Linked DNA regions of Homo sapiens: all the other regions are linked to region 1. The links come from fine-mapping of genetic effects on gene expression. A gene starts in region 1. Each other region holds a variant in brackets. All regions are shown on one strand. Distances are between the middles of the regions.

The links. PIP is the estimated chance that this variant, and not a neighbour inherited with it, causes the effect.
Region 2: its variant is the best candidate, but not a certain one, in a credible set for the expression of BEGAIN in tibial nerve (GTEx, PIP 0.59).
Region 3: its variant is the best candidate, but not a certain one, in a credible set for the expression of BEGAIN in liver (GTEx, PIP 0.84).

The regions. Positions count from the first base shown.
Region 1 is chr14:100,583,023-100,590,545 of GRCh38, reverse strand. It overlaps BEGAIN (brain enriched guanylate kinase associated), which reads left to right and starts at 3,129. Exons shown (of 7, transcript NM_001385089.1): 1 at 3,129-3,297. The coding sequence starts at 3,256.
Region 2 is chr14:100,509,695-100,517,217 of GRCh38, reverse strand. The region is part of intron 4 of WDR25 (WD repeat domain 25); the gene reads right to left. Among named protein-coding and RNA genes, the nearest start is that of BEGAIN, 74 kb to the left of the region's middle. The variant A/G (reference allele first, on the strand shown) is at 4,698.
Region 3 is chr14:100,534,048-100,541,457 of GRCh38, reverse strand. BEGAIN (brain enriched guanylate kinase associated) reads left to right here. Exons shown (of 7, transcript NM_001385089.1): 6 at 879-962; 7 at 2,143-4,311. The coding sequence ends at 3,489. LOC124903382 (a long non-coding RNA gene) reads right to left here and starts at 3,486. Exons shown (of 2, transcript XR_007064334.1): 1 at 2,247-3,486; 2 at 1-1,328. The variant A/G (reference allele first, on the strand shown) is at 2,580.

The DNA.
Region 1 (7,523 bases):
CGTGTGGTGTGGGTTGAGGTTATTGCTTTCTGGCAGGACAGTGTTGGGGTTAGAGTCGGGTTTAGGGTTCATGTTACTGTTCAGGCTAGCATTGGGGTAGGGTTAAAGTTTGCTTTGGTTTTGGGTCCCATTAGAGTTAGGTTTAGCATTTGATATAGGTTGGAATTTGGGTTAATATTGCAGTTGGGGTCATTGTTAGATACACACTTGGGCCAATTCAGGGCCTTCTCACCACCTGTGGAGGGCAGCTGTAGCCCGATTCTGCAGGGGACTCCAGAGTTTCAGTTGGAGCACCTGTTGTTTGTGGGAGAGTGGGAAGATACCTCTCACCTTCCCATTCTCTAGGGCTCATAGTCAGAACCCTTGCTCAATCTGTTCTTGTGGGTGGGGATTGGAAGATGAGGCAGGGAACTGGTCAGCATGGCTAGCTGATGCTGGAGCCCCTGTATGTGGCTGTCTGCGGGTGCCTCACTGTCAATGACTTCCCTGACGTGCTGTCCTTTCTTTTATACTCAGCCACCAGGGCCAGAAGCCTGGCATCACACCAGGCTATTCCTATCTCCCCCACCTCCATCCATCCATGCATTCTTTGGCACATTTAACCATGAGCCCCAGTGTGGTGCCACTTCCTGCCCTGCTCCCTGACCACAGTAGAGGACCACGCATCCCAGCGGGGAGATTGATGTCCACATCAACAGACAGATCAGATAGCTCTGGAACGCAGTAAGAGACACGCAAAAAACAAAATAGGGCAACGAGATTGAGCCATGGGGATGGTGATGTCAAACAGAGTGGTCCGTAGAGGTCTGAATGAGGGCAGGGGCCTGAGGAGAGGGTCCTCCATGGCCCCAGGGCATCACCTCGAAGTCCTGCCACTTTCATCCCTTCTTCCCAACCCGGCTGAAACCTTGCCTCCTCCAGGAAGCCTGCCTGATGCCCCAGGCTCTGCTGCACTGACTGTAGTTTCCCCATCTGCAAAAAGGGGCTAGTACCACTTCCCCTACAGGGGCATTGCAGGGATGCTCCCAGACCCACAACCAATGCCTGCTTTCTCTCCGCCTTCCTAGCTTAAGGGGGCTGGAGTGGGAAGGATAGAAGAGAGGGCAGGGAGGGTGGGGACGGGAGGTGCGTGCAGCATGGGGGAGGGGCTCTCCTGGGGCCTTCCCAGGCAGGCCTGAGCTGAAGCCTGCAAGCTGCTGGAGCTGAAGCAGGAGCCGCCCCCACCCCACCCGCCCCTCCCCCGCCTCCCCAGCCATCTGTGGCGTTGGCAGCAGCAGTGCCAGGGCGGGCGGTGAACATTCTGGCACCATCTGAGCAGGACCAGCCTCTGGGGAAGGGCCGCAGCCCAGGAGGAGGCAATGTGGGCAGAGCCCTGCCTGTACCCCAGGTTCCACATCCCCCATTGGTGTTTGTCCCCTTAGGGACTGGGGAGGGAAGGGACACTGGAGCTGGCAGGCTGGGCCTCACTACCTCTCACAGGATGCCTCCACTGCTGTGTGCTGCCTGAATGGTGTCTGAACCTGAGAGGCCAGAGTGGAGGTCAGGGAGCCTGTCCCTACTCCTGCTGGGGAGACTAAGGCCCCCTTGAGCAAAGAGGCTGGTCCCGTGGTGCACACCAGCGACGGTTTGGGCGAAGTCTGTCCACGCTTCGCCCAAACTGGGAGAGCCCCGCCCTGAGCTGCCGCCTCTCATTTTGTCTTGACTGTGGTGGGGTGCACTTGGAGGCGCCTCCCTCTGTCCATTGGTTACCCAATCATGTCCCTGGGACCTGAGAGGGAGCAGAGACAGGACTTTGCTTGACACGAAGTGGCTCCAGTCAGCTGCTGGTTCTTTTGCTTGTCTCCTTTTTTTCTGGGTTTCCCCTCTTGCCTTGCTATCAGTGCCTTTTCTCAGCACTGACACTGCCTGAATGTAGCAACCTACTCCCCAGATTAAATGAGAGAGCGTAGAAACTGCAAAGCATACAACATACAGCATATAAGGATGGTGGTGATGGCAGCTCAACAGTGGGAACTCAGTGTCCCCAAACTGTACACTTTAAAAGTGGTTAAAATGGTAAATTTTATGTTTTCCATGTTTTCCACAATTAAAAAACAAAAATATACAAGGTACTCATTCGCAGCATCTTCTAATCTGCCATGTACTTGGAAATGATATAAGCATGTGTGAACCATGAGCCCATAGGTCCCGAGGGAGGATATGAGCGAAGCACACGGGCTTTGCCAGCTCTGTTTCCACCACGCAGGACCCTCCCTGGCTGCCAGTGCTCCTCCCCGGGTTCCCACGCTGGCTGCTGCTGGGCTGGCTGGGATGGAAGACCCTCATGTAGCTGGCACCCTCAGGGCTGCCCCTTGCCCGCTCTGGGAGGAGAGAGGAGGGTTCACGCTGCACCTTTACCAGGGTAGGACTGGCCAGCCTGGGCTCTACCGGGCAGGTCGGTGGGATGCTTCAGACTGGAGGGATAGGCAGGGGGCAACACTGGTCCTCCTGAAGCCACCTTCCCTTCCTGAGAGCTCCTTGGGGAGAAGGCAAGCCCTGGAAGCCACCGACTGGGGGCTCGGGCAGAGCAAGGGCAGGGTAAGGGGCAGCTTGGCCAGGAGGCACCCTTGGGAGCCAGGGTTTCCTCATCTGTAAAATGTGACTCTGCGAGGGCAGGAGCTTGGTTTCACTCGCTACTGTACCCCCTGGGGCCTACAGCAGGGCTGGTTGGTACACACTAGGTGTCTAATAAATGTTGAGGGATTGAATGGATGGACCGATGAAAAGGTTGGGCAGGTCATTACTGACAGCCTCTGGGTTTCAAGGGCCCATTCACTCTGTCACTCACCTTCGCGCCCGTGCATTAGTTCTCTCATTTATTCATTCCCCCCGCCCCCCCAGCCCCGCATGCTCTACCGCACTCATTCATTCACGCGCTCAGCCATTCAAGCTGGCGCGGGTTCATTCATTCCCTGCCCCTCTGCCATTCCTCGCCTGGCCCCCGCGCACGCCGCACCCCCGCGCCCCTGCCCGGCCCTGCGCCCACCACTTGCGCCCCGGCCGGGCGCTGCCGGGAGGACGCGCGGGCTCAGCCGCGGCTGCGCGGGGCCGGGGCTGGCGGGGAGCCGGGCTGGGGGCGGGGGGCGGGCGCTCCCTGCGGGAAGCCGGGCGGGGTGGGGGAGCCCCGGCCGCGCCGGCTCCCGGCGCGCTCGGCCTCGGAGGGGAGGGGGCGGCGGTAGCGGCGGCGGCGGTGAGCGGCGCGGCTGCCCTGGGGCCATGTGGACTGGCGGTCGCCGGCCGGGCCGGCTGCGCCGGGCGGTGAGTACCTGCGAGCCGGGAGGGCAGGGCGCGGGCGCGGGCGCGGAGGCGGGGCGGGCGCCACCCACGCCTGGGGCGGTCCCTGCTCAGCGCGGGAGGTGGCCGGCCCCCCGCCCCGCTCCCCTCCGCGCTGCGCCCCCGCCGTGGAGGCTTCACTGGCCCGGGAGGAGCCGGGCCGGGTCTCCTGGGAACTGGGCACTCTCGGGTGGGGCGGGGATGCCCAGCCTCCGCGCGCCGCCGGGAGCGCCCGGGTCCTATCGCGGGGTCCTTGCGCCCTGACACGCGCGCCCCTGCGGCGGAAGGAAAGGAGGGACGGGTGACCAAGGGCGCGGCCGGAGGACTGGGGACCCGCCGCTGTCCCGGGCGGGTGGCGAGGGTGCGGGCAGGCCTGGACCCGCCTGCGTCTGGGGGCAGGGCCAGCCCCTGCTTGGGAGGCCGGAGAAAGGCCCGGGAGCCGGAAGGAGGCTGGACCCGGGGCCGCCTCATTGAGCGTTTGCAGCGCGTGGGCGCGCACGAACCTCGGACACCACCATCCCATTCAGTACCTCGCGGCAGGTACTATCCTCCTGCCCCTTTACAGGCGAGGAAACTGAGGCTCAGGGAGGCCAGGGCCTCGCCCAGAGCGGCTCAGCCGGCGCGCTCACCCTCCCTGAGCCCCAGCACGTTGGATGGGAATTTCTGCCCCAGCGTTTCCGCTTCCTGCTTGGTTTAGAGGTGTTTCCTTCCTCGTCTGTGCCCCACCCCATCCCCAATGTGGTTTCCTCAGGGCAGGAACAGCGTGGGCGACGCGCTGGAGTCTCCTGAGCCGGCAGAATGGGAGCAGAGTGGGCACCCGGGAGCGGGGCCGGATGGATAGGGAGCACTGCACGTGCAAAGTCCGCATGGCCAAGGTCGGCCGCCAGTGCAGACTGGGGGTCCAGGCCCTGGGGGTATGGGTGGGGCGGGGTCTCCACAGCCAGGCTCCGTCGGAGGCCCCAGTGCTCTGGCTCTCTGGAGGCCATGGACAGGTTCTTTTCCTTCTCTGGACCCTAGTTCCTCTGCCTGCCAAGAGCAGCAGAGACCCCCACTACTCCCAGGGCCAGGCTCCCACGAGGACTGTGGGCAGAAGCCCCTAACAAACTGCGGTGTGCAGCCCTGCCAGGCTGGCCTTGGTCTTGCCAGCAGGGGCAACTGGCCGTTGGGGGTGGCTCTGCCTGGCATCTGTGACACGCAGGGCGGGGAGACGGCAGAGAGGGCCCCAGCAGCATCCTGCAAACCCTTAATTTTCCCGACTCTCACTATAATCAGGGCAGCTTGGAAAAGCAAGCACTGTGGCAGATGCGGCTCTGCCCGGGCTCAGCACACGGGCTCTGGGCGATGGGCGGCTGCGCTGCCGCCAAGGGCCCTCCCCAGCTTTTGTCTCATATTTATAGATTCCAAGGCTCCGCGTTCCGTTTGTCGTCAAAACCTGGAGCTGTTCGCACCTGGGAGCTGAGTGGGGAGGGGAGGGCTGCCTAGAACCTCAGCCTGGAGGATGAGTTTTCCATGCGCTGGGGTGGAGTAGGGGGACACCTGTCAGAGCCCAGGCCTGGAGAGAGGAAATGAGCCCTAAGCAATCTGGAAGATCTTCCATCCACTCTCCCAAGACTTGGGCGCAGGGTCTGGCCCACATAGCTGCCATTTATGGAACGCCTGCTATGTACTGGGCCCTGGATCAGCATTTCCACGCATCATCTCCACGGCAACACTTTGAAGGAGCTTCCCTACTCCTGCAGGCACTCCTGATGCTGAAGAGTGGATGGATGGATGAATGGATGGATGGATGGATGGATGGATGGATGGATGGATGGATGGGAGGGAGGGAGGGATGGATGGGAGGGATGGATGGATGGGAGGGAGGGAGGGAGGGATGGATGGATGGGAGGGAGGGAGGGAGGGATGGATGGGAGGGAGGGAAGGAGGGATGGATGGGAGGGATGGGAGGGATGGATGGATGGGATGGATGGATGGATGGATGGGAGGGAGGGAGGGAGGGAGGGATGGATGGATGGATGGATGGATGGATGGATGGATGGGAGGGATTGACTGAAGCCCATGAGTCCATGGCTATTGGACACAGTCCACAAATCATTACCCAGGGTCCCAGGAGGTGGGGTCCAAGGGCTGAGTAGTTGCTGAACAGATGAAGGGGTCAAGGTGTGTTACAGGAGCCTGGCCCAAGGCCTGAAGGTGATGGGGAGAGTGTAGAGTGTTCAAGTCTCAAGACTTAGAGAGGCTGTGTCCTGCTGGAGTGTGGAAGCCATGGCGGTGGGGAGGTGTGGCTCCTCCCCCTAAGGGAGGTAAGGATCCCTGGGACAGATGGGTGGGTGACCCTAGGACTCGCCGTGTTGGTCTAGAATCACCCCGCATGGTTCTCTTCTGACTCCCCTTCCTGCCGCAGAGCTGGTCGCTAGCCTTAGTGGAGAGGCCTGGACGGAGGTCTGCAGCCCTGGGTTCTGGTTCCTCCTCTGCCGCTGACTCACTGTCTCCTCTCTAGGGCTCCGTATCAGAAGCTTAACACCCATTACAGTCAGGGGAGTGACTTCTGTGGCCTGAGAGCAGGCATCAGATTGTAGCCTGTGGTGGGAGAAGCTGGCCAGAGGTGTCTCTATTGCTTTAATCATTATAGGAATGAATGAATGAATGAATGATGAATGACTAAGTGTGTGAATTCTACACTCACCTAACATGCTGTACCTAAGCACCCACTCTGCACTGCTCATTGGGGTCACTTAGGTGAGTCTGACACAGACCTTGCCCTCCACGAGTCCACAGTTTGCTGGGAGACATGGACCTTGGCCAGTACGGCAGGAGTCAGGAGCTGCTGGGGCTCTTCTCTCCCCTCTAGCCAGGAAGGGAACTCAAAAGTGGCCCTTGCCTCAGCAGGCCTTGAGTCTGGAGGACAGTACAGCAGCCTCTGTGGTCTGCCTGGGGTGGGGATCAGCCAGGGCCCAGCTCTGAGCCAAGCAGGGGAATTGCAGTCATTGGTTCAATCAGCAAGCCCTGAGCCCAAGTCAGGGATGGAGATGGGTCAGGCCTGGGCTTTGCCTGGGGAAGCCAGACATGGAAGCCTGGTCATCCCACAGTGGGTGCATGCTGGGATTAAGAGGTGCATGAGGTGGAGAAGCAACGCAGGCATGCTGAAGGGGATGCATGGGTGGATGATACTGTATGGAAGGGAAGCACTAGCAGGATAGAGCAGCGGATGGATGGGTAGAAACCTAGAGGGATAGGCTGGGCGCAGCGGCTCACGCCTGTAATCCCAGCACTTTGGGAGGCCAAGGTGAGTGGACCACCTGAGGTCAGGAGTTCAAGACCAGCCTGACCAATATGGTGAAACCCCGTCTCTATAAAAATACAAAAAAAATTAGGTGGGTGTGGTGGTGTGCACCTGTAGTTCCAGCCATTTGGGAGGCTGAGACAGGAGAATTGCTTGAACCCAGGAGGCAGAGGTGAGGTTGCAGTGAGCCGAGATCGTGCCACTACACTCCAGCCCCTGGGCAACAGAGTGAGACTCCATCAAAAAAAAAAAAAAAAAGGAAGAAAAACGAAAGAGAGAGAGAGAAAGAAAGAAAAAAAGAAAAGAAAGAAAGAAAGAGAGAAAGAGGGATAGATGGACGGGAGGAGAGGTTGATGGATGTAAGTAGCAAGATAGGGATGGGTGGGTGGACAGATGGAAAAGTTGATATGGATACAGGACTGGATTGATAGAACAAAATATCAATGGATGATACATGGGTGGAGGGAGGGAGACTTCTGATACACAAGGCAAGATTGGTAGATGAATGGATGGAAGGATCTTTGGATGGATGGATGAAGGAATGGATACATAAATGGATACAGGTAGTGCCTGGATGTTGGGATGGGTGGATGAATACTTGAATACATGTCCATGAATGATGGACAGAGGAATGAATGGACACTGGAAGAGTGAGTGCATGGATAGGTGATGAGTGTATATTGACGGATGTGTGGATAGAGGCCTGAGAAGGCAGCTCAGTGCACAAATGGATACAAAGCAATGGATGCATGGATACGAGACACAAGTAACAGAGGAATGGACAGACATGGAGGGATGGGCAGGCGGACAGATGGAGACGGGAGTGAGAGGACCAGTGAACAGATGAGTGCCCATCAGCGGGTGAGGGACACAGAGACAGAAGGATGTGTTGGTGCGTGGATGGCACCTGTAAATGGGTGAGCGGTCA
Region 2 (7,523 bases), 73 kb after region 1:
CGTGAACCCTGGAGGCGGGACTTGCAGTGAGCCGAGATTGTGCCACTGCACTCCAGCCTGGGCGACAGAGCGAGACTCCGTCTCAAAAAAAAAAAAAAAAAAAAAAAAAAACAGAGGAGATATGTCAGGTGCAGTGGCTCATGCCTGTGGTCCTGGCTACTTGGGAAGCTGAAGTGGGAGGACTGCTTGAGCCCAGAAGGTCAAGGCTGCAGTGATCTATGATCATACAACTGCACTTCAGCCTGGGTGACAGAGTGAGATCCCATCTCCTTTAAAAAAAAAAAAAACAGAGACAAATAATAAAATAATAACATGACAGGCCAAAGTCAACCATAGCAGTAATTACATTAAATATAAATTGTCTAAAATCTCCAACTAAAAGACAGATTGTCCAATTGGCTTTCAGATTAACATTTAAAAAGATCCAACTGTATCTAGTCTACAAGACAGCCACCTTAAATATAATAAAATACATAGCTTATAAGTAAAAGGATAAAAAAATATACCATATTAAAAATAACCAAATGAGGGCTGAAGTGACCATATTAATAGCAGGCAAAGTAGACTTCAGAACAAGGAAAACCGCCAGGAATAAGAGGAATACAATGAAAACGTACAAGTGTCAATTCATCTAGCAGACATAACAACCTTAAATATGTATATACCTAATAACAGACTTTCAAAATACATGAAGCAAAAACTGATGGAATTGAAAGGAGAAACCATACAAGTCCACGATTTTACCTGGAGATATTAACACTCCTTTCTTTATAATAAGTAACACAAATATTAATCAGTGCATTCATGTGAGGAAACTACACAAACCGGGAAAGGAACCACCAAAAGAGAATAAGCAAAACAATTGCCAAGTTTCACACAGAGCTAGGAATCATTCATTTTCCCACCAGTCAGAGGGGGAAAACCTTGAAATACACATGGCATTGGATAGAGTACTCACAAGAGTATAACCTCAGAAATGAGGCAAAATTGGCCCTAGTCTAAAGGCTGTTTTTGTTCCACCAAACAAAGCCTAACAGCAAGCCTCTGAAAAATCAAACCGTTATCAAGCAATACAACCGCATCCAAAAAATCTCTCAAAATATGTAAAGCACAACAAAATACTGAATACCCAAAAAGTAAAATTCACAATGTCTGGCATCCAATCAAAAGTTACCAGACCTGGAAAGAGGTAAGAAAATGCTTCCCATAATGAAAAAAAAAAAATCTGTCAATAGAAACAGACCCATGAGTGACACAAATGATAGAATAAATAGAAAAGAGGTTGGGCGTGGTGGCTCACATCTGTAATACCGGAACTTTGGGAGGCTGAGGCAGGTGGATCACCTGAGGTCAGAAGCTCAAGAACAGCCTGGCAAACATGATGAAGCCCCATTTCTACTAAAAATACAAAAAAAAAAAAAAAAAAAAGCAAGGTGTGGTGGCATGCGCCTGTAATTCCAGCTACTAAGGATGCTGAGGCAAAATTGCTTGAACCCAGGAGGCAGAGGTTGCAGTGAGCCAAGATTAGGCCACTGCACTCCAGCCTGGGTGACAGAGTGAGACTCAGTCTCAAAAATAATACTAATAATAAATAGAAAAGAACAATAAATCAGTTATGACTATATACTGTATGCTCAAGAAGGTAGCGGACAGTATGAGAATGTTAAGGATAATACACATGAAAGATATCTTTTAAAGACCCAAATCAAACATGTAGAAGTGATATAAAACAATGCCCCGCTATTAATAGATTAAAAATTGCATAAGATATGATTACTAAATTTGAAGATATGGAAGAACAGAGGATCAGTGAGCTATGGAATAAATCCAAAAACCCTGAATATGAATGTAAGTGAGACAGGGAGATGAGGGGTGGGGTTTCGGGGACAAACAAAATTGAAAAAACTACGAGCAAAAATTTTCCAAATTTGATTAAACTGTAAACCCACAGATAAAAGACTATAATACATTGATTAAAACTATAAACTCACAGATAAAAGAAACTAAACAAAGCCTAAGAAACATAGAGAAAAATTACACCAAGGCCCATTGTTTAAATTGCTTGAAGCCAATGGTAAAGAGAAAAATCTTAAAAAGCAGACAGAGAAAAGATGCATTATATACAGAAAAGCAAAGATGAGAAATACAGCAGACTTCTCATTGGAAACAGAGCAAACTAGTGACAATTGAGTGACATGTTTAAAGTACTGGAAGAGAAAAAAATCATCAACCCCAAATTCTTTACCTAGCATAAATATCTTTTAGACAAAAGACAAACTAAAGATTTTTTTGGGCAAATAAAAGCTGAAATAATTTATCACTAGCAGACCAAAAATACAGGAAATGTTAAAGGAAGTCCTTAAGGCACAAAGAAAATGATACCAGATCTAAATTTACACCCAAAAATGAAAAGCAATAGAAATAATACATATGTAGGAAAATAGATAATATCTTTTTATTATTAAAATATTTTTAAAATTATTGGCTACTTCCAGCAAAAATAATAACAATGTTGGAGATTGTAACATAAGTAAGAGTGAAAAATGTATGACAGTAATAGCACAAAGACCCTGAGGGGAGAAACTGAAAATCTGAATACTGCTCTAAGGTTCTTACAGAAAAAGAGATATAATGTGACTTAAATGCAGACAATCATTTTAAAAAAACAAACCCCACAGCACAATGCCACAGATGATAAAGCAACAAAAAAGATTAAGATGAAATCATAAAAATACTAAATTAATCCAAGTGAAAAAAATGGATGGGGGAGAAGAGATGGAACAAATAAAAAAAAATAGCAAGGTAGCAGATTTAAACCCAACCATATCAATAATCATAATAAATTAAAACAGGACAAATAACCTAGTTCGAAAGAAGAGATTGTTAGACAGGTTTAAAATAAAGAAGCAAGATCCAGCTATATGCTGCCTAAAATAAACAAACTTTAAATATAAAGATACAAATAGGTTAAAAGTAAAAAAGGGCCGGGCGCGGTGGCTCACGCTTGTAATCCCAGCACTTTGGGAGGCCGAGGCGGGCGGATCACGAGGTCAGGAGATCGAGACCATCCTGGCTAACACGGTGAAACCCCATCTCTACTAAAAATACAAAAAAATTAGCCGGGCGTGGTGGCGGGCGCCTGTAGTCCCAGCTACTTGGGAGGCTGAGGCAGGAGAATGGCGTGAACCCGGGAGGCGGAGCTTGCAGTGAGCCGAGATTGCGCCACTGCACTCCTGCCTGGGCCACAGAGCGAGACTCTGTCTCAAAAAAAAAAAAAAAGTAAAAAAGATATGCCATGCTAACAATAATTAAAATAAGCCAGGAATGTCTATATTAATACCAAAGTAGATTTCAGAGTAAAGAATAAAGGGATAAAGAGGGTCTTTTCATGGCTGGGCACAGTGGCTCATGCCTGTAATCCTAGCACTTTAGGAGGCCGAGGCAGGAGGATCACTTGAGCTCAGGAATTTGAGACCAGCCTGGGCAACCCAGTGAGACTCTGTTTCAAAAAAAAGAAAAAAAAAAAAGAGGGTCCTTTCACAATGATAAAAGAATCAATTCATTAGGAGAACATGATAATCCTAACTGTGTATGCACCTGGTAACAACTTCAAAATAAATGCAGGAAAACTAACAGAACTGAAAAAGGAAGTAGACAAATCCACTCTTAGAGACACAAATTGCAAGCCTTGTCTTAGTGCATTCCTGCTGCTAGGACAAAATACCTTAGACTGGGCAATTTATAAATAATAGATATTTACTTCTCCCATTTCTGGATGGTGGGAAGTCCAAGATTGAGGTGCCAGCAGATTCAGTGTCTGGTGAGGGCTTGCACCTTCTTGCTTGTCCTCACATGGCAGAAGAGATGGAAGAGTAAAAAAGGGCCCACCTTGTTCCCTCCAGCCCTTTTATAAAGGCATTAACTACACTAACAAAGGTGGAGCCCTCATGACGTAATCTACCCCTTATGTGCCCCCACCCCCTAATACCATCCCTTTGGGGTTTAAGTTCCAACATATAAATTTTGGAGGGATACATACGTTCAAAGTATAGCACAGCTCTTATAGAATAGACAGAAAAAACAGAAAGGATATAGAAAATTTAAATAACACTATCAACCAACTTGACGTAATTGACATTTATAGAACACTGCACCCAACAACCACAGAACACACGTTCTTTTCAGTGCACACAGAACATTTACCAAGATAGACCATATTTTAAAACATCAAAAAAATCTAAATAAATTTAAAAGAATTCAAATATACAATGTATGTACTGTGACCACAATGGAATTGAATTAGAAAAAATAACAAAGAGGCATCTGAAAAGTTCCCAAGTGTTTGGAACCTAACGAGCACACTTCTAAATAAATCATGGATCAGGAAGAAACCAAAAGGAAATCAGAAAGTATTTTGAACTGAATGAAAATGAAAATGCAATATATCAACAGCTTGGGTAGTGCAGCTGAAATACCTAGAGAAAAATCAATAGTATTGAACATCTATAATCGGAAAAGAATAAAAGTCTCAAAACTATGACCTCAGCTTACACTTTAAGAAACTAGAAAAAGAAAATTAAATTCAAGGTTTTTGTGAAAGAAAGGAAATAAGATAGGAAAAGAAATCAATGAGTTCTGTAAAAAGAAAAGAAAGAGTAAAAGACAATAAAATGAAAATCTGATACTTGATCAATAAA[A/G]TTTATAAGCCTCTAGCTAGACTGATCAGAGTAAAAAACAGAGAAGACAAAAATCACCAATATCAGCACTGAGAGAAATGAGGTGGTATCACCACAGATTATACAGATTTTTAAAAATAACATTACAAAAAACTTTATGCCAAAAAATTGGACAACTTTGATGAAATGGACAAATTTCTTGAAAGGCACAAGCTATCAAAAGTCACTCAAAGATTAATAGAAAATCAGAATAGCCCTATATTTACTAAGTAGATTTTATTTAAAATTTCAAATCTTCCCACAAAGAAAATTTCAGGCCAAGACAGCTTCACTAGTCAATTCTAGCAAACATTTAAGGAATAATGTCAATTTTTACACGAAGTCTTCCAGAAAATTGATGAGAAATGAACATTTCCCAATTTGTTCTATGAAGCCAGAATTACCCTGATACCAAACCCATACAAAGATATTATAATAAAAAAAGTTCAGATCAATAACCCTCATAAACATAGATGCAAAAATTCCTAACACAACTTTAGCTGATATAATTCCAAATTATACAAAGGGAATAATATATTATGATCAAGTGAAGTTTATCCCAGGAATGCAAGGCTGTTCTAATATTTGAAAATCAACTGACAAAATCCACCATATTAACAGAATAAAAAAACCACACATGATCATTTCAATAAATGGGAAAAGGCATTTAACAAAATCTAACATTCATTCATGATTTTTAAAAAACTCTCAGCAAACTATGAATAAAAGGGAGTACATTCAAACTGATAGGGACATGTACAAAACAACTAGTTGACATCATATGTAACTGAAAGAGAATACTTTCCCTCTATGATCAGAAATAAGGCAAGGATGCACACTCTCACCACTTCTAGACAACACTGTTCTAGAGGTTTGAGCCAGTGCAATAAGGAAACAAGAAAGGAAGGAAGGAAGGGAAGGAGAAAAGGAGGAAGGGAGGGAGGGAGGAAGAGAGAAAATAGATGAGAGAGAGAGAGGATAGAGATAGACAGATAGTGTCCAGATTGGAAAAGAATAACTAAACCTGACTTTATTAACAGACAACATGATTATCTATATAGAAAATCCAATAGAATCTACAAAGAAACAACCAGAACTAATAAATGAGTTTAGAAGAGTTACAGAATTCAAGGTGAAAATTCACATAGCCACAATTTTTCTATATACTAACCATGAGCAACCAGAAGCTGAAATTTTAAAATATCACTTACAATAGCATCAAAATATAAATACTTGGGGATAAATTCTGACAAAAAAATGTGAAAGACCTACACTATGAAAACTACAAAACATTGGTGAGAAAAATTAAAGACTTCAGTAAATAGAGAAGTATACTATGCTTATGGGTTGAAAGAAACAAAATTGTTGGCAGTACAATTCTTTCCCAAATTGCTCTACAGATGAGATGCAATACCATTTAAAGTTCAAGCCAGTTTTTTTTTGCATAAATTGGCAAAGCAATTGTAAAACTGAAATGTAAATGCAAAGAACCTACAGTAGTCAGAACAAAGGTGGAAGACTTATACGAGCTGATTTCAAGATTCATTATAATATTACAATGATGAAAACAATGGTATAAAGATAGACAAATAAATCAATGGGGCCAGTGCAGTGGCTCACACCAGTAATCCCAACTCTTTGGGAGGCCAAAGAAAGAGGATCACTTGAAGCCAGGAGTTTGAGATCAGCCTGGGCAACATGGCGAGACCCTGTCTCTACAAAAAAAAAAAAAATTTACATTATTATTATTATTATTATTATTATTTTGAGATGGTGTCTCGCTCTGTCACCCAGGCTGGAGTGCAATGACGCGATCTCGGCTCACTGCAACCTCCGGCTCCCGGGTTCAAGTGATTCTCCTGCCTCAGCCTCCCGAGTAGCTGGGATTACAGGCACCCACCATCATGCCCAGCTAATTTTTGTATTTTTAGTAGAGACGGGGTTTCACCATGTTGGCCAGGCTGGTCTTGAACTCCTGACCTCAGGTGATCCGCCCACCTTGACCTCCCAAAGTGCTGGGATTACAGGCGTGAACCACTGTGCCCGGCCAAAAGAAATTTTTTTTAAATTAGCCGAGTGTGGTGGTGCACATCTATAGTGCCAGCTACTCAGGAGATTGAGGCAGAAGGATCGCTTGAGCCCAGAAGTTCCAGGCTGCAGGAGCCATGATCGTGCCACTGCCTGGATGACACAGTGAAACCCTTGTCTCTAAAAATTAATTTTTTTTTTTTTTGACATGGAGTCTCGTTCTGTCACCCAGGCTGGAGTGCAGTGGTGCAATCTCAGCTCACTGCAACCTCCGCCTCCCGGGTTCAAGCAATTCTCTTGCCTCAGCCTCCTGAGTAGCTAGGACTACAGACACACGCCACCACGCCCAGCTATTTTGTGTACTTCTAGTAGAGACAGGTTTTGCCATGTTGGCCAGGCTGGTCTCGACCTCCTGACCTCAAGTGATCCACCCACCTCAGCCTCCCAAAGTGCTGGGGTTACAGGTGTGAGCCACCATAACCAGCCTACAAAAAATTTTTTTAATTAAAAAAAAAAAGAAATCAATGGAACAGAAGAGAGAGTACAACAATAGACCTAAATCTATTTAGCCAATTGATTTCCACAGAGAGGTAAAGGCACAGATATTGTTTTCAACAAATGCTGCAGAAATTTGATTATCCACAGGCAAAAACATGAAACTACATCCATACCTGTACCATACACAAAAAATTAATACTAAATAGATCACAGACTTTAATATGAAGCCCAAAACTATACAACTTCTAGAAGTAAACACAGGGGCACAAAAACTTTTGAAGG
Region 3 (7,410 bases), 49 kb after region 1:
GCCGTGGTGGGGGGACAGAAAGGTGCCTGTGTCAGAGACAGCCTTGCCTGGACAGCAGGATGCCTGGTGCTGGCTGGGTTGGGACTGTGGCCAGCCCTTGCCAGGAGCAGCCATGGGGCAGCTCAGGTGGGTCACTGGGCCTCCGGGCCACCCCAGGGCTAGCTGTCAGAGCCCTCGCAGTGGGGACCCCGGAGGGGCGGGAATGCAAGCCCCAAACACAGGCACATGCAACAGAGATTTTCAGTGGCGAAGCCACACCCCTTGAGTCCTACTGTTTGCATCTGTTTTCAGCTCAGGAGGCTGAGCCAGCGCCCGCCTGGGCCTGAGGTCACACACCTGCCCAGTCCCTGCCCAGCCCTGCAGCCACACTGTTTCCAAACCACACTCTGGGAAGAGGGTTGTGAGCAGCAAGTCTGAAGTGCGGGGTGGAAGGTGCTGGGGGTTCATCCTGCCTCCCATTCCTGCCTGGCACTCCCACCCCGTCATCTTTGGAAGGACGCCGAGAGCCTGAGGGACAGGGACAGGGAGACCAGGCCTGCTCTACGAGCCTGGGGGAGCTCAGGGCCATTGGGGCTCCTTCTTCTACCACTGCCCCCCACCTTGTGGGAGGTTCCCATCTTGGCAGTGCTCAAGGGCACCAGCTAGGGCAGCGGCAGGGCCCTCCATGCTCCGGCAGCCCCAGGTCAGAAAGAGGCTCTCATTTTGCAGGCAAGAGTGTGGAGGCCAGAGAGGGCCGGAGCCAGCAGTGGGTCCTTGTCCTGCTGAGCGCACAGCAGGCCCTGTGCACACCACTGCCCCCGCTGGCCACTTGGCGCTGGTCAGGGCGGCGGGGCCTTGGCTGGGGTGAATGGCGCCAAACGCCTTCTCTTGTCTTTTAGGAGCTCTATAGGAAGGACTGCAATCTAGCGGCCCAGCTGCTGCAGTGCAGCCAGACCTACGGCAGGGTCCACAAGGTGTCTGAGGTAACGTGGCCCCGCAGCCAGGCCCACCCCGCCCCGGGACCACCGGGCTCCTTTTGTGCCAGTGCTACCCCAAAGCCATTTCCCATCTTTGAGGAGGAAGATGCCAGCTGAGCCTGAGCCTCCTCTGTCCCCCTCGCTCCTGTGGGGTCATGACATTGGAGGGGCCGCCAAAGGCACCCCACCTCACGCAGCCGGGCAGCCCCTGGCCCTCACCAGAGTCCCTTTGGCCCACCCCGGCTGCTGGTTGCCCTCGGTTTCCTTTGGGGGGCTGCTCCAGGTCCTTGCTTCCACTGAGCGCTGACACGGCAGAGTGACCTTTGTGGAGCTTCGCAGGAGCCTGTGGCTGGGCACGATGACCGGCAGTGCCTATTTCAGAAAGAAAACATTCAGGAAAGAGGGCGTGGCTGAGGCCACGTGGCAGGCAGGTAGCAGAGCCAGGACCCAGAACCAGGCCTGTCTGATGCCAAGGGCAGATGGGCCAGAGGCCCACCCCTGCCCGCCTATGGTCGCCGCACCCTGCGCACCCCGTCCCCCGACCCTCCCCTCACATGCAATCTCCCAGCCAGGCCTGTGCGTTCCTTTCCCCTGGTCCTGGGCCATGCCTGAGACACTCACAAAATAGATCAAACAGTAGCGGGACACCCCCACATGGCACCAGGCGCTCTCAGCCCTGGCCCTCAATCTTTGTTGCATCTGAGTCTGTCTTCTTCAGGAGCGCTCCAGCAGCATGACTGGGGGGCTGGGGAGTGGGTCATGCCCCCAGTAGAACCCACAGAACCCACGGGCCTGGGAGAGCAAGTCAACCCCTCGCTGGGCACAAAATGGGTGGGGTGGGGGTGGCGGGGGGTGGAGCCTTGAGTGGGGCCTGAATCAGACCTGGGTTCCGGCTTCTCCAGGCGACTGCAGCTTCTGGGCTCTCCTGGGCCCAATCAGAGTGGGGTGGGGAGAGGTGACCCAGGATCCCCAGGCAGTCACAGCACCCACACCCCTGGGAGCTTGTTCAGTACAGCGTCCTGGATCCAGGCTCCCCCTGGTGTGATTTGAGAAGCCGGGAGGCCCCCGTTCGTCTGTCTGCCTGTCGGTCATGGCTAACATCAGTCCTCAGCTTCAGGGCCAGGGCTGGGCTGCCATGCTAACAGTGACCCTGTACCCGCCGTCCCCCTCCTCGCACCCGTTCCAGCTGCCCTCGGATTTCCAGGAGCGCGTGAGCCTGCACATGGAGAAGCACGGCTGCAGCCTGCCATCCCCGCTCTGCCACCCGGCCTACGCCGACAGCGTCCCCACCTGCGTCATTGCCAAGGTGCTGGAGAAGCCGGACCCCGCCAGCCTGTCCTCCCGCCTGTCCGATGCCTCCGCCCGCGACCTGGCCTTCTGCGACGGGGTGGAGAAACCAGGCCCGCGGCCCCCCTACAAGGGAGACATCTACTGCAGTGACACAGCCCTCTACTGCCCGGAGGAGCGGCGGCGAGACCGGCGGCCTAGCGTGGACGCGCCCGTGACCGACGTGGGCTTCCTGCGGGCCCAGAACTCCACTGACAGCGCGGCCGAGGAGGAGGAGGAGGCCGAGGCGGCGGCCTTCCCGGCGGGCTTCCAGCATGAGGCCTTCCCCAGCTACGC[A/G]GGCTCACTGCCCACGTCCAGCTCCTACTCCAGCTTCAGCGCCACGTCGGAGGAGAAGGAGCACGCGCAGGCCAGCACGCTGACCGCGTCGCAGCAGGCCATCTACCTGAACAGCCGCGACGAGCTCTTCGACCGCAAGCCACCCGCCACCACCTACGAGGGCAGCCCTCGCTTTGCCAAGGCCACGGCCGCGGTGGCGGCCCCGCTGGAGGCCGAAGTGGCCCCAGGCTTCGGGCGGACCATGTCACCGTACCCGGCCGAGACCTTCCGCTTCCCGGCCTCTCCGGGTCCCCAGCAGGCCCTGATGCCCCCAAACCTGTGGAGCCTGCGGGCCAAGCCGGGGACCGCCCGGCTCCCCGGGGAGGACATGAGGGGCCAGTGGCGTCCCCTGAGCGTGGAGGACATCGGCGCCTACTCCTACCCCGTGAGCGCTGCCGGCCGCGCCTCACCCTGCAGCTTCTCTGAACGCTACTACGGCGGGGCCGGGGGCAGCCCGGGCAAGAAGGCCGACGGCCGCGCCAGCCCGCTCTACGCCAGCTACAAGGCCGACAGCTTCTCCGAGGGGGACGACCTCTCCCAGGGCCACCTGGCAGAGCCCTGCTTCCTGCGGGCGGGCGGCGACCTGAGCCTCAGTCCCGGCCGCTCGGCTGACCCACTGCCCGGCTATGCACCCAGCGAGGGGGGGGACGGGGACAGGCTCGGGGTGCAGCTGTGTGGGACCGCCAGCAGCCCTGAGCCCGAGCAGGGTTCCAGGGACTCCTTGGAGCCGAGCTCCATGGAGGCCTCCCCGGAAATGCATCCTGCCGCCCGCCTCAGCCCCCAGCAGGCCTTTCCGCGGACTGGTGGCTCGGGGCTGAGCCGCAAGGACAGCCTCACCAAGGCCCAGCTCTACGGAACCTTGCTCAACTGAGCGCCTGCGTGCAGGCCTGGCCGTGGTTCGCTCCCCGCCAGCCCACGTGCCCCAGAAGGGCCGGCCTCACCTCTCCCCAGCCCCCGCTGTTCCCCTGCCCCGGCCAACAACGAGGAGTCTGTTCCTCCCCGCACCTCCTCTCCTCCCCAGCCCTGTAGGCCTGAGGGGAGGGTCCCCCACACCACGGTGTCCACCCGGCCCCGGCCCGTGGAACTCCACTTAGAGCGTTTTTCACGCGTCCTTCCCCCATGTGAGAGGAGCATCCCCCCTTTTATAAAGCGAAACTATTTTTATAGAGAAAAAGGGTCTTTCTTAACGCACTTGGCCTCCAGCTCCCTGGACGGCTGCCTTGGCGTTTTCAACACAAAGCTCCTTTATTTTTTGGGCGAGGGTGCGTGGGGCCTGCCCCTTGGAAGGGAAGGGAAGGACGGTGTCCTGTGGAGACCAGACTCTGCAAGTGGGGAGACCACCCCCGCAAGCCAGTGACAAGGGAGCCCTGAAGTTGTGTCCACGAAGAGGGAGCTGAAACAAATTCGGGGCTATGAAGTGTTTTAAAAATCCATTCTTCGCAGTGTGGCCACCACACCGCCCTGAGCCCTCCCACGGCCCATCGTCCCGGGTGGGCCGGGATGATGCCCCAGTGCGGCCGGTGCTCATCTCCGCCCCCGGGTCCGCCCCCTGACACCGTCTTACTCTACCTCAGACATGAGGAGGCCCTCCATTCCTGGTTTCTGTAGCTTGCATTCTTGTTGTCTCTGATGCATGCCCTGCCAGTTAGTACTGTATTTTGCATTCATTAATAAAAGACACCGGTGGAAAGAATCTGGGTTGGGCTGTTTCTCCTCCTCCTGCCTTTTGGTCTCGGGAACCTGGGGTCCCTGGTGTCCCTCCCCAGCCTTGCTCTCTGCAGCCGAGTTGGGCCCCTTAACCCCACTTCACACCCCATCCCCATAACACCCCGTCCCCACCCCGCCATCCAAGTTCCTATCTAGGGTGTGGATTCTCCTGCTTCTCCCAACCCACTGGAGACAACAGCTCTTTCATCCCATTCTCCTGCGCGCTGCCCCACCGATTTCCTGGCCCCTAATCCTCGTGTCTCAGACTTGGCTTCTGCTCCTTGAGATGTACTGGGGCCACGGATGGAATGTCGGCAGGTGGCCTTTTCCCGGGCACACGGGATGCTGCCGCTCTGCTCTGTCTTCCTGTTGGTATTGGGAACTGGCTGTCAGTCCCGGAGCCGCTCCATTGGTTAGAAAAAAAAAATTGCTTTCTTTTCCCCGGCTCTTTAAGATTTTCTCTTTGACTTTGGCTTTCTGCAGTTTCCCTGAGGTGTGTCTGGGTGTGGAGTTCCTTCTTAGGAATCCTTCTGAGGATCCTCAGGGAGTCACATCTGTGGATTGGTGGACTTCATCAGTTCTGAAAAATTCTCAACTATTATTTTTTTAAAAACATTTCTCTGCCCATTCTCTCTGTTTTCTCCCTCCGGGTTTGTTTCCCAGACCTGTGCTACCTCAGGCCTGCAGTGGCCCTGTCACCCCCCACCATGCCCTGTGCCACTCCAGGCCTGCAACGGTCCCTGTCACCCCTCCCCACACCCTGTGCCATCCCAGGCCTGCAGCGGGCCCTGCCGCCCCTCCCCACACCCTCCGTGGTTGCTGCGCTCTCCCTGCTACACTGCACATCATCTGTCTTCCAACTCACTAATTCCCTCCTATGTCTATTCAGCCGCCACACACAGCCGCTGAGGTTTTCATTTCAGTTATTCATGTTTTTCATTTCTGGAGGTTCTACTTGGTTGTTTTACAAATCCACAGTGCCACTTTCTTAGCTTCCCATTCCCTGGAGATATTTTCCAGCTCATCTCTTATTTCTATCAAAACAGTGGGCACAACCATTTCACAAGCTGGTCTGGGACCGGACCATGTGGTCTGTGCAGGCCTCCTCGTGGTTCCCGCTCCGGCGGCCCTGTTTCTCTGGACGCCTGCTCATCTTGGACACATGCTCATCCCTGCCCTTGAAGAGGTGCATGTGTGGGTTCAAGGCTGAGGATGGAGGCCCCTCCCTAAGAGGGCCTTTATAGCTGTCCCTGTAGGTGCCTGGGGCATGTCCCAGTGGGGAGCACCTCACCCAGGTTCGTGTCTGGAGGTTCCCTGGCACGCCTGGCTTTGTGTGTAGCTCTAGCGTGGCTCTGCCTATGGTCAGACCACTCCAAGGAGAGTGGGCATCAGCCGTGGCTCCCTGCATCCCTGCCCTCCCCCTTCCTCTGCAGAAGAAGCCAGAGCCAGCCAGGCTGTGTCTTCTCCAGCCATAGCTGCCGTCCCAGGAAGCAGCCTCCCTGAGCCGGGGGAAGCTTGGAGAGGTTTGGGATTCTGTTCTCCTCTCTGGGGCCTGTGGGCAGAACAGGGGCTACAGCCCTCACTGAGCTGGGGGCAGCCAAGAGGGTGGGAGAGAGAAATAACTGGCACCCGGTGGGCAGAGGCATTCCCAGAGGGGAACCCAAGCTTCAGCTACCCCAGTGTCAACTGTGAGATTTCTGTCACCCAGACGTGGGAAAGCTGAGGCCAAAAAGAGGGGCGCCCTGGCTCTGCCACTTCTAGGTGACAAAGGCCCCACCCAGGTCTCACTCCTGGGGGCTACTGAATCAGACATACCTGCCCTGGGCGGCAGCCTTGGCCCAGATCTGGGGGGGCCAGACCCAGGGTGTTGGCCCCAAATTGCCACCTCAGAGCCTGCGGCCCCCAAGATGGCCTCCACACCTCACAGGGCTCTCCTGCCTGGGCTGCAATGCCTGCCACAGCCGGGCCTCCAAGGTGTCTTGTTCCCGGAGCAGCCAGGACCATTAGGTCCCTGCCTAGGACTGGGTAGGGACGGTGACTTTGGCTGCAGAGCCAGGCAGCCTTCAGGCGCAGGAGAGAAGAGGAAGGAGAGGGTCCACATGGCTTGCAGCGGCAGGGTCAGGCTGACACCCCCGGGGTGGGGGCCTGCCTGCTGTGCACGGCAGTCAGGACACTGCTCCTTGTGGTGCTGAGGCTGGGGAACCTTGGTTCACTATCCCCAATTCTCATGGCTCAAAGCTGGCTCAGCAGGGCCCTGAGACTTAGGAGCACCTGTGGCTCTGACCAGTGACTCTTCTCTCGCGGGATCCCTTGGGCTGGGTCTCGGTGCCCCCCTCCTTTCCCTGGTGCTGTTGTCAGCTGGCAGCCTCATGCTGGCCTCGGGGACCTGGCCCTGCCCACAAGGAACTCAGAGGTGGGGGAGGAAGGCAGACAGTGTAACACTCAGCTCAGGGCTTCCAGAACACAGGGCCTGTGGGCCTCTCAGAGGGGAGGGCCCTCACTGCTCCAGGAGGACGAATGAAAGGGGTCAGAGGAGAGGATCACAATGGGTGTTGAAGGATGAATAGGAGTTCAACAGGTATTTTAGGCAAATGGAACACAGCCATGAAAAGGCACAGATCTGTGACAGCTGGAGAGTTCTAGAAACTGTTCAGTGCTCCTGTGGGGCTCCCAAGGGGCTGAGCTCTGGAGCTGGCAGTTTCCCTCTGGATCTGCCCTTCGACCTTCTGCACTTGGACTGTCCCCACAGCTGAACGGGAAGTCCTGGACAGTCCCCATCTACCCAGGCAGCCGGCCTTGGCACAGGGTTCCCTGCTCCACCCCTGCCCTCTCCCTGCACTGAGATCCTGCCTTGCCGTCAGGGAGGCCCTGTCTGCACATCCGCCACCCGCCCACACATCCATGTATGTTTCTCCTCAGCTCTCGGCAGGGCAGCGCAGGGTTGGGCTCTGCCACCAGTTGACAGTGTCACCTTGGGCAAGACCCAGGCCCCCTGGCCAGCTTCCCTTGCTGGAGCCTGAGGACATTCATCAATGCAATTTCCAGGGACCCTCTAGGCAGCTGGGTCTCCCACTGTACAGACAGC